2 linked regions of the Homo sapiens genome follow. The protein of the gene in region 1 interacts with the protein of each later gene in a pairwise test. Each region holds a gene or a part of one and is shown in the gene's direction. Other genes may lie near its edges.

The links.
Region 2: the proteins of RAB3IL1 (region 1) and TIGD7 interact in binary tests that used the Homo sapiens proteins (3 or more experiments, as listed by UniProt).

The regions. Positions count from the first base shown.
Region 1 is NC_000011.10:61,899,403-61,909,561, reverse strand, and holds part of RAB3IL1 (guanine nucleotide exchange factor for Rab-3A), read left to right. Parts: intron 1-1,255; coding exon 1,256-1,508; intron 1,509-1,901; coding exon 1,902-1,997; intron 1,998-2,091; coding exon 2,092-2,169; intron 2,170-2,459; coding exon of another isoform or gene 2,460-2,554; intron 2,555-2,877; coding exon 2,878-3,096; intron 3,097-4,679; coding exon 4,680-4,808; intron 4,809-4,903; coding exon 4,904-5,016; intron 5,017-7,020; coding exon 7,021-7,120; intron 7,121-10,159. UniProt on the Homo sapiens protein: Guanine nucleotide exchange factor (GEF) which may activate RAB3A, a GTPase that regulates synaptic vesicle exocytosis. Promotes the exchange of GDP to GTP, converting inactive GDP-bound Rab proteins into their active GTP-bound form.
Region 2 is NC_000016.10:3,301,328-3,312,073, reverse strand, and holds the start of TIGD7 (tigger transposable element-derived protein 7), read left to right. Parts: upstream 1-6,643; 5' UTR 6,644-6,862; intron 6,863-10,064; 5' UTR 10,065-10,746. Other genes in the region: ZNF75A (zinc finger protein 75A), read right to left, coding at 126-321, 3,238-3,645.

The DNA.
Region 1 (10,159 bases):
GGAGCCTTGAGGCCACACTCTGGGCCGGTTCCAGAGCAGAGGGCAGGTGGGGCTGGGCAGCTGGACCGGGCTGTGTGAAGGGACTCATTGCTGGAAGTGGGCTCCTTGCAGGAGTCTCTGGGGGCCCATTTTCTGTGTGTTAACCAAGGGAGAAACTGAGGCTCAGGGGCTGCTTGGTGACCTTCCCAAGGTCCTGAGGACAGGGAGGGGAGACTGGTCCACAGACTTGCCTCTCACTCCTCCCTCTGCCTCAGCCGTCCTGAGTCCCACTTTCTCCTTGGCCTTGCCTTCCCCCTCTGGTGCAGCCTCCCTGAGCCCCTCCCCCCAACTTCCCTCACTGATATCAGTGGCCCGCCCAGCCCCCCATCCCCAGCCCTGGTTGCTGCGGCTCAGAAGCTGCTGGCTCAGGAGCCTCCAGCTTTTGCTGAGTGAGCGAGTCCAGAGGTGCTGTCTTGGCACAAAACACCGCTGGCCGGGCCCTCGCCCTCCCTTCCCTCTCCAGGGTCCACTTTGGAGTGGAGAGTGTGGGTGGGGGCGGAATGAGGCCTCACACCACCTCCAGGGTCTTCAGCTTCAGGGAAGGGAGGGTCCTGAGGCCCAGAGAAGGGGGTGTTTGCCTGAGGTCACAAGGCAGGCCAGGGGAGAGCTGGGACTGCTCCCCACCAAGTCCAGGGGGACAGGAAGTGGGTCTGTCTTGTCCAAGCTGTTTGCAGAATCTTCCTGCCTCAGCCCTGCCTGCCCTGGCCTCATCCTTCCTCTCTGGTCCACCCTGAAAGGGGCAGAATTCGCATTAACTGTATCAGTGAAGGCAGCTCCTGCTTGAGTGCATCCGAGGTGTCAAGGTTTTACCCACACCTCCTCTGATCATTCAGTGACCTTTGAGGTAGGGCCATTGGAATAGGCTTCACTTAATACAAGTGGGACTCAACCCTGATGCATTTACAGTCACCTGTTAGACAAAGACGCTGACCACCTACTGTGTGCTGAGCACCTACTGCATGTGCCAAACACAGCCCTCAGCCCTGGGCTGGAAGGGGTGGTTGACAAAGAGTAATAAGCCTCTTGCCCCAAGAGACTTTGTGCTTGGACATTTGCCCTTGTAACAACACTGATGATAGCTGGTAGGGTCCCAGTTTTCAGATGGAAAGGCTGAGGCTCAAGTGGCAGGCACATTGCCCCGGGGCGGTTTCTGGACTCAGCTCTCCAGGCCTCAGGACCCCACCCTGAACCTGCTGATACCCTTGTTTGTCTCCAGCCCACCCCAGCCAGACCAGGGCCTCCCGCCGCCCCTTGCAGCTGTCCCGGTCCCCTGGAAGAGCACGGACCCCTGCCAAGGCCACAGGGAGTCCCCAGGAGCCCTGGTGGAGACCTCTGCAGGGGAGGAGGCCCAAGGCCAGGAGGGCCCCGCAGCCGCCCAGCTGGACGTGTTGCGCCTGCGCAGCTCTTCCATGGAGATCCGAGAGAAGGGCTCCGAGTTCCTGAAGGAGGAGCTGCACAGAGCGCAGAAGGTGGGTGCCTGCAGTAGGCTGGGGGGTCTTCGGTGGGGAGAAGTCAGGTTGGGAGAGCTGTGGGCTCTCATCAGGTGCCCAGAGATGTGCCCAAGGGAGAGGGATGTGCCCTCACCGAGGCCAGCTGCTGGCCAGGCCTGTACTGGGCGCACCGATGGTCACCCGTCTTGACTGCAAACGTGCCCTGAGCTCTGATGAACTGGCAGGCAGGGCTTCAGCTTCATGCTGTGGCTAAACGGAAAAAGCATCACAAACTGTCAGGCACCAGAGGAAATAAACTCTGAGCCCCACATAAAATGACGAGGGGATGGAACCTGGTCCGGTGGGCCTGGTCCCTCCCGTGCCAGGCCTGGGGATGCTGAGGTGCTCAAGTGCCTGCCTCTTTTCCTCCAGGAGCTGAAGCTAAAGGACGAGGAATGTGAGCGGCTGTCCAAGGTGCGGGAGCAGCTAGAACAGGAGCTGGAAGAGCTGACGGCCAGCCTGTTTGAGGTACACCGGCTGGGCGCGGGAACAACTTGGGGAATGGGTCATCTGGGCGTCCGTTGGCTCCTCACCACTCACGCAGGGACTGCCTTCTTCCTAGGAAGCTCACAAGATGGTTCGAGAAGCCAACATGAAGCAGGCGGCATCAGAAAAGCAGCTGAAGGAGGCTCGGGGCAAGGTGAGGCCCATCCCCGCCTGCCCAGGCCAGCCCAGGCACCCCCCCTGCCTCCCGGCTCAGCGAGCACTGAGCTTTGCTGCCCGAGTGGACGCTCACCTGGCCCGGTGGGGCCAGCAGGAATGGGTGAACCTAGGCCCAGGGAGGGAAGGGAAGGGTGGGGGTCTGAGATCACAGGGCCCAGTGTCCCGGGGCTCCATCAGTGATTCTGCTGCATGGCAGAGCCTTTTCTGGGATAGTGCTGGGGCTGGGAGGACCCTGTGATTATTGTACCTTCTTCCCTCTCCTCCCAGCCCCACTTTACAAAGCAGAAACCTCACTCAGTATGGCTGTCTGAGCCTGGGCAAGTCGCTTCCTCTCTCCAAGCCTGGTTGCCCATCTGCAAAATGTGAGGCCTGGGCCTTTCCTGGCTCCTGGGGGCGGTCCCAGAACTCTCATGGGAGGCCCAGCCAGCTCCCAGACACTTGTTCCTAACAGAATCCTGCTCACAGAGTGACCTTGGGCAGGCCATGTCGCCTCTGTGAGCCTCAGTTTCCCTATGTGTAAAACGAGTGTCTGGGTCTCTGCCTCGAAGGCTGTTCTGAGGGCGTCGGGTGGGACTAAGTGCCTGTCACTGCAGGGGTGCATTGTCCTGAGTTAGGCTGATAGGCGGTGGCAGCCAGGATGGCATCCAGTCTGGGTGAGGGTTGACAGCCATCCCATCCCATGCAGATCGACATGCTGCAGGCAGAGGTGACAGCCTTGAAGACGCTGGTCATCACGTCCACACCAGCCTCTCCCAACCGCGAGCTTCACCCCCAGCTGCTGAGCCCCACCAAGGCCGGGCCCCGAAAGGGCCACTCTCGCCACAAGAGCACCAGCAGCACCCTCTGCCCCGCCGTGTGTCCCGCTGCGGGACACACCCTCACCCCAGACAGAGAGGGCAAGGAGGTGAGGGTGGGAAGCGGGCTCTGGGCACGGGGAAGGGTGGCAGTGCCTGCGGTAGGCAGGGTCCGAGCCCAGTGAGGACCAGCCTGCCCCATGCTGTGTGACCTGGAGCCTGTCCTGCGCCTCTCTGGGATGTGAGGGCTGGGCAGGTCCTTTCTCTCCAACCTCCTGTGATCTGAGGCACTTGGCCTGCAGCCTCCAGGGTATACCATCTGGGGACCTGAGGCCCCCTCCCTGCCCCACTGACTCCAAGCAGTAGGTAGTGGTCTCTGCACCTGAGGCTGGCTTTGGCCCTGAGGATCTGGGGCCTCCACTGAGACACACACTTCCTTGGCCTTAAGAGGCCAAGCAGCAGCCACTGGGCCTCAGGGGAGAGGCTGCCTGGACCCCGTGTGGCCACAGCCTCGAGCCCCAGGACCACCTGGTGACAGCCCTGTGCTCAAGGGGTTTCTGGCACCCTCTGACTGTGGGGCTGAGACAAGCGTGGCCTTTGGAGAGGTGTCTCCGTCCCACCTCAGCTGGCCACACCAGTTGCTGGGCCCAGGCTGGGCTGACACTCATGGTCATGGGTCTGTAGGCAAATGAGGCCACCTGTCAGCACCTCAGCTTTCTCACCTGATAAATGGGGCCTCCCGGGGCTGCTGGAGGAACCAGAGACAGGGACATCAAGAGCTGAGTTCAAGGCTGCACCCAGGTAGTGCCTCAGAGGGCTGTGGTGCCTTCAGCTTCCTGGGTCCCTGGCGCCAGCCCACTCGACTCCATCCTGGCTTCCACCTCTGTCTCCAGGGCCTCCAGGGAAGACGAGCAGGCCCTCATCCACCTCCTGAGCTCTGAGCTTCTGAATGTACATTAACTTCTCCCCTTCCTCCTGTTCTGTCTCTGTGCACCTGTCTACCTGTCTGTCTGTCTGTCTGTCTGTCCATCCGGCCCAGCCCGGGCTGGCCCCGCTGCTCTCCCTGCTCCTCTGCGTGGTCCCCAGCAAGGCGGTTCACCTCACCTACGAGCCGGCCTGGCCGCTCCCACCTGGGGAGCCCCCAGCCCCTGCCTCCACTCCCTCTCCCTCCTTTTCCCGACAGGTAAATGGCTCCAAAGAGGGGCCTCCCACTTTGCCCCCTCCCAGCCTCCCTCATTCTGCATGTGGCCTGGAGCAGGCCAGCAGTCACCTCTGAGGTGTGGGCCCAGGGCAGCCTGTGTGTGTCCCCTCCTGTGTGCACGTGCTTGTGTGTGCTTGTGTACCTGCTGGTACCTGTGGCCTCCTGCTAGTTGCTCTTTGACTTTTCCTCCTCAAGGAGGCACTGAGGGTCTTCAGGACAAAGCCCTGCACCCCACTCTAAAATCCAGTAGCGCCAAGAAATTTAACACCGGCCTGGAAACAAAACTTTTAGTTCTAAATTCTTTGGTGCAAAGGGCAGAAGGGAGCTCTGCTGCTGCTGGACTTGGCTTCCCTGCACGGCTGCTGGGGATCGACCTGCTGGCTTGCTGGGCCTGCCCCACGTCCTCCCTCGCTCCCCTTCAGCTCAGCCTGCATCTTCTATGCTGGCCCCAGTACCCTGACCGCCCCCACCCTCGCTTGCCCTCCCCCACAGGTGGACACAATCCTGTTTGCAGAGTTCCAGGCCTGGAGGGAATCCCCCACCCTGGACAAGACCTGCCCCTTCCTGGAAAGGGTGTACCGAGAGGACGTGGGCCCCTGCCTGGACTTCACAATGCAGGAGGTGAGGCATGGCAGGGGCGGGGCCAGCTGGGGGACACACCCCTCCGCCAGGGCCCAGCCCCTTACCACCCTGCCTGCCTCCCTGGTCTGCCACAGCTCTCGGTGCTGGTACGGGCCGCCGTGGAGGACAACACGCTCACCATTGAGCCGGTGGCTTCGCAGACGCTGCCCACAGTGAAGGTGGCCGAGGTTGACTGTAGCAGCACCAAGTAAGCTGAGGGTCTTAGCTCCTTCCTGCCCATGTGGGAAAGCCCCGCCAAGCCGTGTGTTTACTGTGCCGAGGGGTGGTCAGGATGCAGCAGCGCCGACAGGACAGGGACAGTTGCTGCCCCCACAGGGCAAGGAGGCAGTTTGGCAGGTTTCCTGTGGACCCCCAGGCTTTCCAGAGAGGCCGGGAGCTAGGGTCTGCCTCTTCCTGACTGGTCTGCTCTGTGCCCTCCCCTTCTTTTCTTGAACCATGATTATCAGTTGCTGGCTGTGCCCCTGCCAATAAATAACGACGCAGTAGCCCTGGCATTTGTCCTCCAGCTACTCACCTGGCATTGAGCAGGGGAGCAGCAGAACAAAATAGCCAGGGTGGAGCAAGGGGCAGAAATTGGGGAGGATTTCACCTTGGCAGCCAAGAGCCTGGCTGGGGATGGCTGGTGCCCTGGTGGGAGGCTCATCACGGAGAGGGAGCATTTGAGCCAGGTTTTGAAGGATGAATAGAAGTTTGCCAAGCAGGGAAGGGCATTTCAGGCAGAGGGAACGGAATGTGCAAAGGTGTGAGAAGCTGGAGTATTAACGGAAGCACCACTGGGGCATCTGGCTAAGCAGTGGGGGGACAGGGAATTGGGGTGGAGGCTGCAGAGGCTGTTGGGGCCAGAGTATAAAGAGCCTTCACAGGTTTGGGCTTTAACCCACCAGCCAGTGCGGCAAAAGTCATCAATAGGCCGGGTGCAGTGGCTCACACCTGTAATCCCAGCACTCTGGGAGGTTGAGGCGGGTGGATCACTTGAGGTCAGGAGTTTGAGACCAACCTGGCCAACATGGAGAAAACCCCATCTCTACTAAAGATATAAAAGTTAGCCGGGTGTGGTGGCACACGCCTGTAATCTCAGCTGCTCGGGAGGCTGAGTCAGGAGAATTGCTTGAGCCTGGGAGACGGAGGTTGTGGTGAGCTGAGATTGCACCACTGCACTCCAGTCTGGGTGACAGAGTGAGACCCTGTCTCAAAAAAAAAAAAAAGTCATCAATAGCTGCCACCTGAAAAGAGGCTCTCTGGTCCATCAGAGAGTCCCAGTGAACCAGGAGGCAACAAATGCTCTGATAAGTCCGCAGCCAAGGAGCTTTTTAAACCTTCATTTATTTGGGATTCTCCCCATTTCTTGGGAATTAGGAAAGCAAGAGAGAAAGATGATGGGTTAGATGTGGGTTTTTGGAGGAGCCCTGGCTCTGATGTGGAGAAGAAAGAGAGCGATGAGGCAGAGAGCTGGCCAGAAGGAGCCAAGGGGATGCAGGCCAAAAGTACTGCTGCTGTGCCCTGGCCTGGGGACTTGGTGACCAAGCAGAGGGTGAGGAGGAGAGAGCCGAGCAGATGATGGCCAGTGAAGAGCAGGTTTGGGGAGTGGGGCCCAGATGGGGGTTGCTCAGGGCCTGTGGAGACCCTTCATGTGGGTGGCTGAAGATGCTGAGCGACGTCATGCAGGACTGGGGGGAGGAGAGAAGAGGGCATGGGAGAAGGCTCTTAGACGGGGTTGGTTGGCATGCGGCTGAGAACCATGGGGGTTAGTGGGGTCAGAAGGCCTGCATGGATGAAGCAGGGGAGCTGCTGGATGTTGGGAAGCGGGAGGCAGCCAGACCTCAACTCTGGCCTAGTTGGGGGAGGAGTGCCTGGTCTGAGTCCCCAGAAGTAGAGGGAGAGGCATATGCAGAGCCTGCAGAGGGTGGGACTTTGTACACCTGGCATGAGATTAACCAAGCTCTCTTGCCCAGTAGGGGCAAAACAAGGGTTCTAGGGGTACAGCTCAGCTTAGTTCGAGGTCTGTCCCAGGGATGGCTGGGGCCAGCTCCCTTCTCTGCCTGGCTCTGGGTTCCTTTGGAAGCCGGGTGGGGGAAGGGAGGCCTGCCCCTCCCCATGCATCCTCTCAGCTGCTGCATCTTCCCTGTATGCAGGGGTGAGGGAGAGGGGCAAGCCCCAGCCAGCCCCCGTGACCCATTTTGCTTTCCCCTAGCACATGTGCCCTGAGCGGGCTGACCCGCACCTGCCGCCACCGAATCCGGCTCGGGGACTCCAAAAGCCATTACTACATCTCGCCATCTTCCCGGGCCAGGGTGAGTCAGCCTTTGCAAGCGTTACTTGACTCCTTTGGGGCCACCTGGGTGCTGGGACACTGGGCCCTGGGCCTGGGAGTATGAATAGCACTACACCTTGATTTACTTATTTTATTTATTTATTTTTTGAGACAGAGTCTTTGTCACCCAGGCTGGAGTGCAGTGGCACAATCTCAGTTCACTGCAATGTCTGCCTCCCAGGCAGACATTAGCAATTCTCCTGCCTCAGCTTCCCAAGTAGCTGGGATTACAGGCATGTGCCACCACGCCCAGCTAATTTTGTATTTTTAGTAGAGATGGGGTTTCACCACGTTGGCCAGGCTGAACTCGAACTCCTGGCCTTAAGTGATCTGCCTGCCTCGGCCTCCCAAAGTGCTGGGATTATAGGTGTGAGCCACCACGCCCAGCCTTACATCTTGATTTACAGAGCAGGGTACAGGCTCAGAGAGGCGCAGAGACTGACTCGGGCCACACAGCCAAGCCAAGGGCAGTGGTTTGCTATTACGGTGTAACAAATTACTATCAACCTGGTAGCTTAAAATAGCGCAGTTCCCCATGTTGGAGTCTAAGCACTACTTACTTACTGGATTCTCTGCTCAGGGACTTGCAAGGTCGCAGTAAGCTGTCAGCAGACTGTGTTCCTTTCTGGAAGTCAGGGTCCTCCTCAAAACTCACATTGTTGGCAGCATTCAGTTCCTTGTGTTTGAAGGACTGAGGCCCCTATTTTCTTGCTGGCTGCTGGCAAGGGGACACCCTCAGCTTCTAGAGGACACCCGCAGTCCCCTGCCACAGGGCCTTGTTGCACAGGGCAGCTGACTTCAGAGCCATCAGGAGGGCCACTCTCCAGTCGGCTGAGATGCAGCCTTATGTATGAAATGTCATGGGATGACATCGCCCCCCTCTGTCATTCAATGTCACCTAATCCAGGAGTGATGCTAGAGTTCCAGTTAGAGTGCGGGGCTCCTGACGCCCAGACTCAGGTGCTGGCCGAAGCTTTGGAAAAGGTTCAGCGGTGCGTCTGGTGCACCAGCCTTAAGTCGGCCGTGAGTGCCAAGGGGCCTCTAGGAATCCCAGCTCCCACCCTCCCCTGCCGAGTGACCCAGACCAGGACAGGGGTTCTCACCAAGCTGGGGATTGAGGACAGGGATTCCTCTTCCTCTGTCCCTCTGTTGACTCTTAAGAGGATTGAGGGGAACAAGAGAACATGTTTGGAAACACGTTTCCAGTGACACAGCTTGAGGAACCATCTCAGGCCTGCTAGAGGCTCCTCGCAGGGGAGCAGGTCTAAAGGGGACAAATGGTCCCTTTGCTGGCAGCAGACTATACTGTCCTTGATGAACTCCACAAGGCATCCGAGCGTGAGTCCTCCCAGCGGTGTGCTGAGCACCCATTTACCAAAAGGGAGGCTGAGCCTTGGCAGAGGAAAGGGGTGTGTTCAGGGCCACACACCGAGACCTGGGATCCTGGCTCTGAGTCCACTGCAGCCCCTACCCTGTGGATTTGTGCCCACTGAGCCTTGTTCAGTGGCCACTTATCTCCATCACCGCTTTCCAGGCCCAACCATGGCTCAACAGCAGGCCCCACAAAAGATGTTCCCGTGCTCAACAATGTCACCTCTAGCACTTTAAGTCCCTGGCCTGGGTGTCCTGCTGCACTGGATGAAGCTGGGGGTGGGAGATGAGGTGAGGAGGGTCTGAAGTTTTAGGATGTGGTCCCTGCCCTGAAAGACCAAGACATGTGGGGTCCACAGGGAGAAGTGTTTTCTCCCTAGCACACTCCCTGGAGAGGGAAAGCCCCCTCCCTGCTACTCCCTGCTCATGAGCCTCTGTGGGCATCCACTGTCCCTGCTCCTGTCCTGAGCTCTGCCCTGCCCCACCCTCCTGCCGCAGCCTCTCCTCAACCCTCCCTGTGCAGCGGTGTCCCTGCCACGACGGGCTGGTCCCCCGACCTCGCCCCGCTCTCTCGCACCTCCCTATCTTTGCCAGGCCACCACCGTCCCGCCCCTCCCCGAAGCTTCTCCACTCCCCAGCCTGCGGGTGCCCCTCTCACTTGATGTCCCTCCCCAGGAGTGTTGGACATTCAGTAGGGGCTGTTGCGGGCGGGCACAGCCGCCGGCTACCTTCCACCCTGTCTTAGGCTGGGTTCCGAAGAGGCAGAGCCTCACCTGGAGATTGTGTGCAGCTCCCAGGAGAATGAGGGAAGGGACGGGGGAGTCCAGCCAGGATGTGGCCTTAGCTACAGCCCAGCTTCAGCCCCATCCACCGGGCTCTTAGCAGAGTTGATTCCACCCTGAGGCAAGGGGACTGTCCTTTCTATCTCCACACAAGTCAGTCATCGGCTGAGGTCTACAGGAGGAGTGAGTACAGAGGGGGGCACCTCTGAGCCATTAGTGCCCCCACTCTCAGCAGCTGGGAGATGGGGCCCGGGCCTGGGAAGGGGCCCTGGGCCAGGCACCAACAGTACCCTCTCCGTGGTGTGAGTCCTCATAGCAGTGTCTGAGCCAACACAGGGTCCCCGGGGCCTGGCATGGAGCAGGCCTGAGGCCCCAGGGGCCCCGGGCAGCCCAGGTGAGCGGCTTCTGACCCCCTTTCCTTTCCCAGTGTTATCAGTAGCACTGGACTGAGGCCTGGCTGGCCCAAAACTCCAGCATCTGGAGCAAGCCGGCCTGTGAGAGGGCGAGTGTAGACTCCGGGACAGCCTGCCCGGTTCATCTCACAGCTCTGCTGCATGCTGGTTCATTAGCTCCGCCATCTCCGTGATGGATGTCAGCGGCTTTCCCCGGGTGGCTCCGCTTTCCCCCATGTAAGATGGAATAATAAGCGCGTCTGCTCCGTTCGCTGCAGGCGCTTGATGAAATGGCTGCTGCTGCTGCTGCTGCTATTACAGCAGGGCTAGTCATGCTGTTGTTGATTACTACTTGAAAGCCCAGTCCCAGCTGAGTCAGGGAGCACTGCCTGGCTCTGCAGGGACCTGGGGCCTCCTGCTCTGGACTCAGATCCGCCTGTCAGGGGACCCCCAGCGTGGGGCTGGCAGGTCACA
Region 2 (10,746 bases), on another chromosome or scaffold:
GTTGCTATCAAGGCTGGTTTTACAAATCCACAGAGCAGGGTATTCAAAAAATGCCCATGACATTTTGGGTGAATAAACTATTATCACAGCTCCCAGGAGAAGAAAATTATCATGAAGCTCCTTACCCCTCTCATACACAGGCTCAGTCTCTTTATGAGTATTCCTGCTGAGCTGTTCTTGCAGACCCTCGTATGTATTCCAAAATTCTTCATCTTGGGATACGCCCACTGGTTGGGACTCTGTTGGCTTCAGCCCGAAACTTGAGGCCTCTGCTGTTTCTCCCAAGAGCACTGCCTCCTTTCCCAGCTCATGGACTGCAACCTAGAAATAATTCCCATCCTTGTTACCACAGAACTTACTTTTGGTTTGTGGGGGTGGAGGCAGAGCGACAGGTGTACAGCCCACATTGTGGGTAGTATAAGACACTAAAAAAAATGACAAAAAAAGGCTTAAAGAGATACTGGGCCACCAATGCTCCACAAATGACTATACACAAATATGAGAAAACTAGGGTGAAAGGAAACAAACTGTGGTGCCTGCCAGCCCTTTAACACAGCAGCTTCTACTCCTCTGTATACGGTCTAGGTCAGGCCACTGGCAGGGTTGGGCAGCCCACTCATTTTTTTTTTTTTTTTTGAGATGAGTTTTGCTCTTGTTGCCCAGGCTGGGGTGCAAAGGCATAATCTCGGCTCACTGCTACCTCTGCCTCCTGGGTTCAAGTGATTCTCCTGCCTCAGCCTTCCAAGTAGCTGGGATTACAGGTATGCACCACCACGCCTGGCTAATTTTTGCATTTTTAGTAGAGACGGGGTTTCTTCATGTTGGTCAAGCTGGTCTCAAACTCCCAAACTCAGGTAATCTGCCCACCTCAGCCTCCCAAAGTGCTGGGATTATAGGTGTGAGCCATTGTGCCCAGCCAGGCAGGCCACTCATTCTAATACTGTCTTGTCAGGCCTTTTCTGTTGACTTCAATCCCACAGTTGTGGTTTTCTGTCTTCTAGTTTTCTCTAAAATTCAAATAAATGAATTTAAAAGTTTTCCTGTCAGCCTGATTATCCCTATAGCCAGCGAAGGTTTTCAGAGAATGGGGATAGAATGGAGAAAAAAGGGGAGTGGCTCCAACCTACCTCCAGATGATTCTGACACCAAACATAGGTCCTGCCCTGTATTCTTCCCAGCAGACCCGAGGTCAGCAGATGTGTCGCCACCCACCAAGTTCATACCCTGGCTCCCAACTTGTCAGCAGAGCCAAGGAACAAGCATTAAGGGAAGGCAGTAGAGACTTTCATCTACTATAGGGAGGACATTACCCATCAGTGCATTTCCTGTCCTTGGCTATTCTGTTGGGATTTTTCTTTTTTCCAAATCTTTGTTTCCCTTTTTTCTATGTTTTCTTTTCTTGTGCAGTCTTCCCCTAGTTGTTTTTTTTGTTTGTTTGTTTTGTTTTGAGACGGGGGTCTCACTCTGTCACCCAGGCTGGGGTACAGTGGTACAATCATGGCTCACTGCAGTCTCATCCTCCCCAGGCTCAGGTGATCCTCCCACCTCAGCCTCCCGAGTGGCTGGGACTACAGGCACACGCCACCATGCCCAGCTGATTTTTGTATTTTTTGTAGAGACTGAGCTTCACCATGTTGCCCAGGCTGGATTTTTCCTAATTTTTAAAAACATTTTTTTTTTCACATGGAGTCTCGCTCAGTTGCCCTGGCTGGAGTGCAGTGGTGCAATCTCAGCTCACTGCAGCCTCTGCCTCCCGAGTTCAAGCCATTCTCCTGCCTCAGCCTTCTGAGTAGCTGGGATTACGGGCACACGCCACCATGCTCAGCTAGTTTATGTATTTTTAGTAGAGACAGGGTTTCAGCATGTTGGTCAGGCTGGTTTTGAACTCCTGACCTTGTGATCCGCCCGCCTCAGCCTCCCAAAGTGCTGAGATCACAGATGTGAGCCACCACGCCTGGCCTAAAACATTTTTTTTTTTAAGAGACAAGGTCTCACTCTGTTGCCCAGGCCAGAGTACAATGCTGCAATAATAACTCACTGTAGCCTCAAACTTCTGGGTCAAGCAATTCTCTCACCTCAACCTCTTGTGAAGCTGGGACTAGAGGCATGTGCCATCAGCCTGGCTTATTTTCTTTTTTTTTTTCATAGCAACAAGGTCACACTATGTTCCCCAGGCTGGTCTCAAGCAGTCCTCCCACCGCGACCCCCTAAAGTGTTCGAAATATAGGCATGAGCCACCGAACCTGGCCAATTTCTCCTTTTCTTTAAGTGTCCTTGTTTTCCTGTGTTCTCCTTGTGGATCTGCCTTTTTTTTTTTTTTTTGACAGGTTCTCACTCTGTCACCCAAGGGAGTGCAATGGTGCCATCTCAGCTCACTGCAACCTCCACCTCCTGGGCTCAGGTGATTCTCCTGACTCAGCCTCCCAAGTAACTGGGACCACAGGTGTGTGCCACCATGCCTGGCTAATTTTCATGTTTTTTGTAGAGACGGGGTTTCACCATGTTGCCCAGGCTGGGCTCAGGGGATCTGTCTGCCTTGGCCTCTCAAAGTGCTGGAATTACAGGTGTGAGTCACTGCACCCGGCCCGTTTTTTTTTTGTTTTTTTTGTTTTTTTTTTTTTTGTGAGATGGAGTCTTGCTGTGTTGCCCAGGCTGGAGTGCAATGGTGCGATCTCGGCTCACTGCAACCTCCCAGGTTCAAATGATTCTCCCTCCTCAGCCTCGAGGATAGCCGGGATTACAGGCACCGGTCATCATGCCCAGCTAATTTGTTTATTTTTGTAGAGAGAGGGTTCCACCATGCTGTCCAGGCTGGTCTTGAACTCCTGACCTCAGGTGATCTACCCGCCTCAGCCTCCTAAAGTGCTGAGATTACAGGTGTGAGCCACTGCATCCAGCCTCCCTGACTCTTTATTACCTTTTATTCTGTTTCTAAGTACTTAAGTCCTGTCTCCTTGGCCAAGCCAGACTAGGCCCAACACCCTCAATTCACCCTGGCTCCAAAGAGGGCAAAAGCAACTCTCTTTCTCTAAGGCCAGGGAAGTATCTACCACAATCTCTGAAACCTGTGAACTTTTCTGTGGGCCTGTAGTTTCAAGTCCCACCTTAACTGTCCTTAAAAAAAAAACCAAACAATGACCTACCTAATCCATCTAATTTCTCAACTAACTGCCACCATCTCTACTATATCCACCTGCATCCTATTTCACTGTACATGTCAGGAATCTTTCTTCTCACCCCATTCCATGTTTGACCAGATTCCCTCTGCAAGTGTTCTACCAGAGCCACAGCCTCCTCAATGCTCTGTGGATGGTGCTTCTGCATCTGGGTCTGTGTCTCCCTGGGCAGAATAGTCAGGAACTGCTCCAGCACCAGCAGTTCCAGTATCTGCTCTTTTGAGTGGATCTCTGGCTTCAGCCATAGATGACATAATTCTTGAAGTTTGCTGACAGCCTCACGGGGTCCACCTGCTTCATCATAGGTGAAATTCCGGAAGTGCCAGCAAGAGCTCTTAGGATCGAGACAGTCCATTTGAGGAGATTTTTTACTCTGACCGGAGCTCTCTCTTGCAGGCCCCTTGGTCTCCCACAAAGCCCTGATCTGAGGGTCCAAGTACGCAGCCACTTTCAGATCTACCATCATCATTCTGCTCTAGGAAGTTCTGCTCCTGTGTTAAGACACCCAATTGGTACCACGTTTAACAAATGAGATCCTGTCTGGTCTTGTACAAAAGCAATAAAAGGATCTTCTTCCTAAAAGCACTGAGGACAAGAAAAAGAAAAGTATGTATCAATAAGAAACTCACATGAACCTCATCACTTGCGACTTATGAGAGAAAGAAGAACAGAAAAGGTGTCCTGTCTTCCCTTCAAAATCAACTAGCAGGCCCTTTGTTTTTCTCCTTTTCTATTATTCAGCTGAAGCACAGCACAAAACACACAAATGTCAGTGGACAACTGTCTTTTTTATAAAAAAGAAAACAATTTAGGAAAGATTGGTGGGTAAGAAAATTGGCACCCACTGGCTGAAAGGTATTTTGGGATTTTCCAAGGATTTAACTGGTGTGCCTCCTATCCCATCTTCCCCATAAGAAAAGAATAGGAGAAAATAAGATTAGGAAAACATTCTGAGATTCTCTTAAATTTCAACAGATCATCCCAGTCTGTCTCTAGTAAGGGGAGTACAACTTTTATGACCCTTCATCCTCTTGTGAAGATGGAAGCCTTCACTTTAAAAATATTTTAGGCCAGGTGCAGTGGCTCATGCCTGCATTCCCAGCACTTTTGGAGACCGAGGTGGGAGGATCACTTGAGCCAGGAGTTTCAGACCAGCCTGAGCAACATAGCGAGACCCCGTCTCTACAAAACACAAAATTTGAAGAAAAAAAAAAAAAATAGCCAGGATGGTAGAGCACACCAGTAGTTCTAGCTCAGGAGGCTGAGGTGGGAGAGTCGCCTGAGCCCAGGAATTCAAGGTTGCAGTGAGCCATGACCTCATCACTGCACTCCAGCCTGGGAGTTAGAGCAAGACTTTGTCTCTAATTTAAAAACTAAAAATAAAGGCACCTTAAAAAACAACATTTTAGATTTTCCATTGTAGGAATACTGGCAAAAGAGCTGAGACGGTGAGATCAAAATACAGTAGTATCCCTTCTCCAAGGGGGGTAAGTTCCAGTACATTCTGTGAATACCTAAAACCCCCAACAGCATCTAACTGCATTATACTATTTTCTCTATGTATACATAGCTATGATACCTTAATTTATAAATTAGGTACAATAAGAGATTAACAATAAAACACTGTAGTAAGAGTTATTTAAAACTGGCGGTGCGCCGTGGCTCATGCCTGTAATCCCAGCACTTTGGGAGGCCTGACGTGGGTGGATCACCTGAGACCAGGACTTCAAGACCAGCCTGGCCAACATGGTGAAACCTTCTTTATTGTAAACACAAAAATTAGCCAGGTGTGGTAGTGCGCGCCTGTAGTCCCAGCTACCCAGGAGGCTGAGGCAGGAAAATTGTTTGAACCCGGGAGGTGAAGGCTGCAGTGAGCTCAGACTGTGCCACGGCACTCCAGCCAGGGCAGCAAAACGAGATTCCATCTCCAAAAAAAAAAAAAAAAGTTATTTAAAACTTATGAACTGTTTATTTCTGGAGTTTTCCATTTAATATTTTTTGGATGGCAGTTGACAGCGGGTAAGTGAAACCCAGATACAGTGGGGGGAGGGGGTACTACAGAAAGTAAAAAAGTAGCCTATTTTCAGACAATGTCTCCCAAGTAAGCAACAAGATGCTCATCATTCTTTGCAACACACATAAAGGGTGCCATGCAGATGATTTATACGAATTTTGTTTTTTTTTTTGAGATGGAGTCTCGCCCTGTCACCCAGGCTGGAGTGCAGTGGCGTGATCTCAGCTCACTGCAACTTCCACCTCCCCGGTTGAAGCCATTCTCCTGCCTCAGCCTCCCGACTAGCTGGGATTACAGGCGCGTGCCACCATGCCCGGCTAATTTTTGTGTTTTTAGTAGAGACAGGGTTTCACCATCTTGGCCAGGGTGGTCTCGATCTCCTGACCTCGTGATCCACCCATCTTGGCCTCCCAAAGTGCTGGGATTACAGGCGTCAAACACCGCGCCAGGCCTATATGAATTTTTAACTGTGCTTACTTGATCTGGAGAAAATTACAGCTGACCTCTGTTTACAAAATATCAACTTGTAAAAAAGGATATTTTATTTACAAAATATCAAGTCGTATTTTCTTTCTGTCGCTGATGTTTATGAAATATCAACTCCAACAGGAGTTGGTGACGATGAAAGTGAAACTTTCTGCTGACTTTGTATTTCTCCAAAGGTCATTTAGACTTCTAAGGGGGGCTGAGGAGAGCCGTGAGCCTCACTTTTCCTGAAGTGAGCCAGCAGAAACGGCACCGAAATTCTGCCCAGGATGCCACCGGTATTCAAAGAAGTGGCCAGCTCCTTGCTGCCCACCCCGGTTCCAGAAGCAAAGAGACACTTCCTATGTTTTTGCATCAGTAGAAGCTGCTAGCCCTGAGGCTCAACCGACCGCATGACATCGGCCGGACACGGAAATGCCGGCGGAGGCGGGAAAGAGTCTGCGGGCGCAGCTGCAGGCACTGCTGCCCGCCAGCACTCGGATTCGCCACAGCCTGTGTCTGCGACAGGCGTGCCCGTGGGCACTGGGCAAGCGGGCAGTGTCCCAGCGAGCTTCAGCCGCGCCTCTGGGATACAGCTGCGAAAAGCGGGGAGAGAATGGTTTCTCGTGCCCGACGGTGGCCCCGCCTCAGGCTCCAGCCGCGCGGCCCGGAAGCGCCGCGGCCACCGCCTACGGAAAATGGCTGCCTCCCTGCGGCCGCCGCCGCTCCAGCGGCTCCAGGGTCGAAGCCATAGGGGAAGCCGCTTCTCGGTTACCTCGGCCAGCTTGGCTTCCGTGGAGGCCGCTCCTCGCTTTCTGAGGCTCAAACGCAAGCCACCGCCCGAAAGGCCGCCGATCTGAGGAGCGCAACCGCCAGCCCACCGCTGGCCTACCGCAGCCCTGTCCAGGTACAGAGCCAGAGCGCCGGCCGGAAGTGGAAGTGACGCTTTCCGAGGGTGGCGCAGGCCCGCCCTCTGGCTAAGGCGCCTGAGCCCGGCCTACTTCCTCGCCAGAGAAACTGCTGTCTTCCCCGGCGGTAGGGAAGGGTTAATGCCACCGAGTATCCAGACCCGCTGAAGCCTAGAGGGCCTTGTACCGGCTCACCGCGTGGCTGTCGCTGTCTCGTGTCCCCAGTGGGGGAGGCGTCGCACTGCCGCGTCTGTTCTGCGTGGCTGTCGGGCGGCGTTTGGTCCCGGGAGCCTCGCCGGGTAAGGGTCGCCTCCCAGCTGCGCGCGCCGCGTTCTCGGGCTTCCCGCGGCCCGGCCGGCCGTGCTCGAGCTGTTGCTGGGCTCGTCGCCGCCTCCTCGAGGAAGAGGCATTTTGTCCGGGTCGGGCCACTCGCTAGGTCAGAAACAGCGGCCCCCCGAGGGTTTTGTACCGTTTTCTAGGTCTCGTGACGCATTCCCCACAACTATTTTTTCTTGAGGTAGGTTTGAACCTGTGAAATAGGTTCTTTTTCTATCTCTCCTTGACAGAGAAACGGAGACCTAAGAAGTGACTTGCTCAGGGTCACATAGCTCAGCAGTGGCGGCCGCTAATCGGAAATAGCTCTCCTGTTGTGGTATCCTCTGCGTTTTCCACTCCAGTATTCTTCCCTGGAAAATGGGAACCTTGTTTTCATCTTATATCTCATGCAGCGCCTAACATAGTCACCTGGTAAGATAGGCATTCCACACATATTTACTGAATCATAGTTATAAGAATCTGAGTGTTTTGGGTGTTCAGTGATCTCTGAATTAATCCGTTTTTGTAATGTCAGTCTGTACCAGTTGAGGGATTATTTAATAAGTCCAGTATGAGTGGTTTCGGAATTACCAGTTTTTGTAACGTCAGCTTATACCAGTCAAGGGACTATTTATTAAGTCAGCTATGTGTAGCCAATATTGCAGAGTTGAGTAAGAAGTCTTTGTCCTTAAGCAATCTCTTGAAAGGACTGAGCAATTTCGTGAATATCAGTAACACAAGGGTAAGAATAGGACATAAACTGAATGCTGTGAGAACTCCAAGAAAATCCAAGTTGATTTGGGGTTGGGGGAAATTATAAAAGACCTTGAGGGATTTTGTCCACAGCAGGGAATGGAGACACTTTCCAGGCAGAGGGAAGGGTAGGAGTAAAGGCTTTAAAAGCTGGAAACATTAGACTGTGAGATCTTAGGTACGTTTTTACTGAGTTGGGCTGCATTTAGAGGAAGAGTTTTAAAAGTTAGAAAACGAGTTTATGTGGCACTTATACTGGAGTCCTTTGAATGGGAATGAAAAGAGTGCATTTAAGAAAGTAAATCCTGGCCGGGCGCGGTGGCTTACGCCTGTAATCCCAGCACTTTGGGAGGCCGAGGCGGGCGGATCATGAGGTCAGGAGATCGAGACCATCCTGGCTAACATGGTGAAACCCCGTCTCTACTAAAAAATACAAAAAAAAATTAGCCGGGCGTGGTGGTGGGCGCCTGTAGTCCCAGCTACTCGGGAGGCTGAGGCAGGAGAATGGCGTGAACCCGGGAGGCGGAGCTTGCAGTGAGCCGAGTTCACGCCACTGCATTCCAGCCTGGGCGACAGAGCGAGACTCCGTCGCAAAAAACAAAACAAAACAATACAAAAAAGTAAATCCTGGAGCACCATTTGAGCGTTTTGGACTGAGCTGCTTTCTATGGCAGTTCATCTAAGGTAAGTTTAAGGTGAGAATGAAGATGAGAGGCCATTACCAGGCCATTATGCTATTTTTGCTTTTGGATGGGATGGTATGTAACTCCTCTTAGGCATAGATCTTGATCCTTTTTAAGTGAGAGAGAAAGATAAACAGATTTAATAATGAGCATCTGCCTAAGTCACTTGAATTTGTGTCTAAGTAGGTTCATTTCCTTAAAATCTCAGCCAGGTTGGGACTTCATTTCTTCAGCAGTAAATATTCTCAGTCTATCAGAACCAGTGGACAGTAGCGCCATCAGCATTAAGATTCTCATCACCTGGCCCAATGCTGAATATATAATTAGAATTTATTAAGTTGAATAAGTGAAGTTCTGCTAGCAGTGCTAAGCAGTGCCCTTGGATATCATTGACAGGCCTGATTCATAACACAGGAAGTTGGTTAAAGGGAAAAGGGATTCATGGGAAAAAGAGGCAGCAAGGCACAAATTGTGAATAGTGAATAAGAGGCACTGGTGATTTTCATTGTGTGAGGTTTGCTGCCATAGTGGCTTATCCTTTGAAGCCCACAAACATTCCTTGAGCCTTTCCTTTTGGTTTCACCTCCCCTTGCTTGGGCACTGTTTTAGAAATGATGACTGTGGCTGGGCGCAGTGGCTTACACCTGTAATCCCAGCACTTTGGGAGGCCTAGGTGGGTGGATCACTTGAGGTCAGGAGTTCGAGACCAGCCTGGCCAACATGGCAAAACCTTGTCTGTACTAAAAATATAAAAATTAGCGGGGCATGGTGGTGCGTGCCTGTAATCCCAGCTACTTAGGAGGCTGAGGCACGAGAATGGCCTGAACCCTGGAGGCAGAGGTTGCAGTGAGCCGAGATTGTGTCACTGCACTCCAGCCTGGGCGACAGAACCAGACCCCATCTCAAAAAAAAAAAAAAAAAAAAAAGACGACGGCACAGCTGAGAAGCATTGAAAGCAAATACATTAATTCTGAGACACCTACACAACTGTCATAGTGGCCTGAATATTTTTGCTAGGTGACTAGCTTGAGTTAATGGTGCTGCTATTGGCTAGCAAATACTTTTTTATTTTTCTATTTATAAGTGAAAGAGATAAACCAAGATTTATGTCTGAGTTATCACTTACTAACTGCCTTAATTATAGTTGCCTCATTTAGAAAGTTGCTTGATCGTAGCCTGCCATTGGCTCCACCCCCTAATTACTACCATATTCTCTTGTAATCTTCTCCATGCTCTATAACTCATAGTTGGCATTTCTTGCAATGAATGTTACAGGAAAACCAGTGGTCTGACTCTTCTGGGTTTTTAGATGAGAGACCTAAGAGAATTCTATGGGCCAGGTGTGGTGGCTCACGCCTGTAATCCCAGCACTTTGGGAGGCTGAGGCGGGCGGATCATGAGTTCAGAAGTTCGAGACCAGCCTGGCCAACATAGTGAAATCCTCTTTACCAAAAAAATACAAAAATTAGCCGGGTGTGGTGGCACACACCTGTAGTCCCAGCTACTCAGGAAGCTGAGGCAGGAGAATTGCTTGAACCCGGGAGGCAGAGGTTGTAGTGAGCCGAGATGGCGGCATCGCACTCCAGCCTGGGTGACAGAGCAAGACTCTGTCTCAAAAAAAAAAAGAGAGAGAATTCTATGTAGTTGAGGAATGAATGGGCCAGTCAGATTCTGCCCTAAAGAAGAGGAAGAATAACTGAGATACCAGCCATTTCCCTTATTTCTCTGACATACTTTTCTTTCTTCGTAGCACCTGGAATGGATAAAAGTGGCAGTTTTTGTTTCTTCCCATGAGGTTGTGTATCTGGACTGAGAACCAGGAAATTAATCTAGACTAAGACATTTCTAAGGACCTGGAATGGCTTTGGGGAGCACCAGGAGGACCCGAAAAGAGTATTTGAGGGCCTAGAGGGACAGAAGAGTTTGCCAGTAGGATTTATGAGAAACAATTGATCAGAAACAGCAGCAGAGAAACCTTTTAGATTTCTTCTGTGGAAAAGTTGAGTCTTGGTTCAAATTAAGTAAAATAAACACTGAAGAGAAATCAAAATCTCAAATATAAAAAGTATGTTACTTATAGTGTAAATTTAGGAAAACAAATGAAAGGACAGATCTTTAAAAATTTTTAACTATGGTGAAATATTTGTAAAACTTTTGGGCTCATCTCTGAGAATTGCTGTGATTCTGAAACTTGATAATATCTCAAATAGAGAACAGTTTCAGTGAAAAATAGCACTTGAGAATAAATCAGATGTTCCCAAGAAAGAAGATCTGAGAATGGTAAAGTGCCACTGACAAATAAATTATTTACATACTTACATATTACCTTGGCAAACACAAGAGACATTCAAGTTAAAGCACGGTGCTTGACAATACTATATTGAATGCAATAAAAGTTGGATTTCATTCATATGTACAACAAACTACTTTCT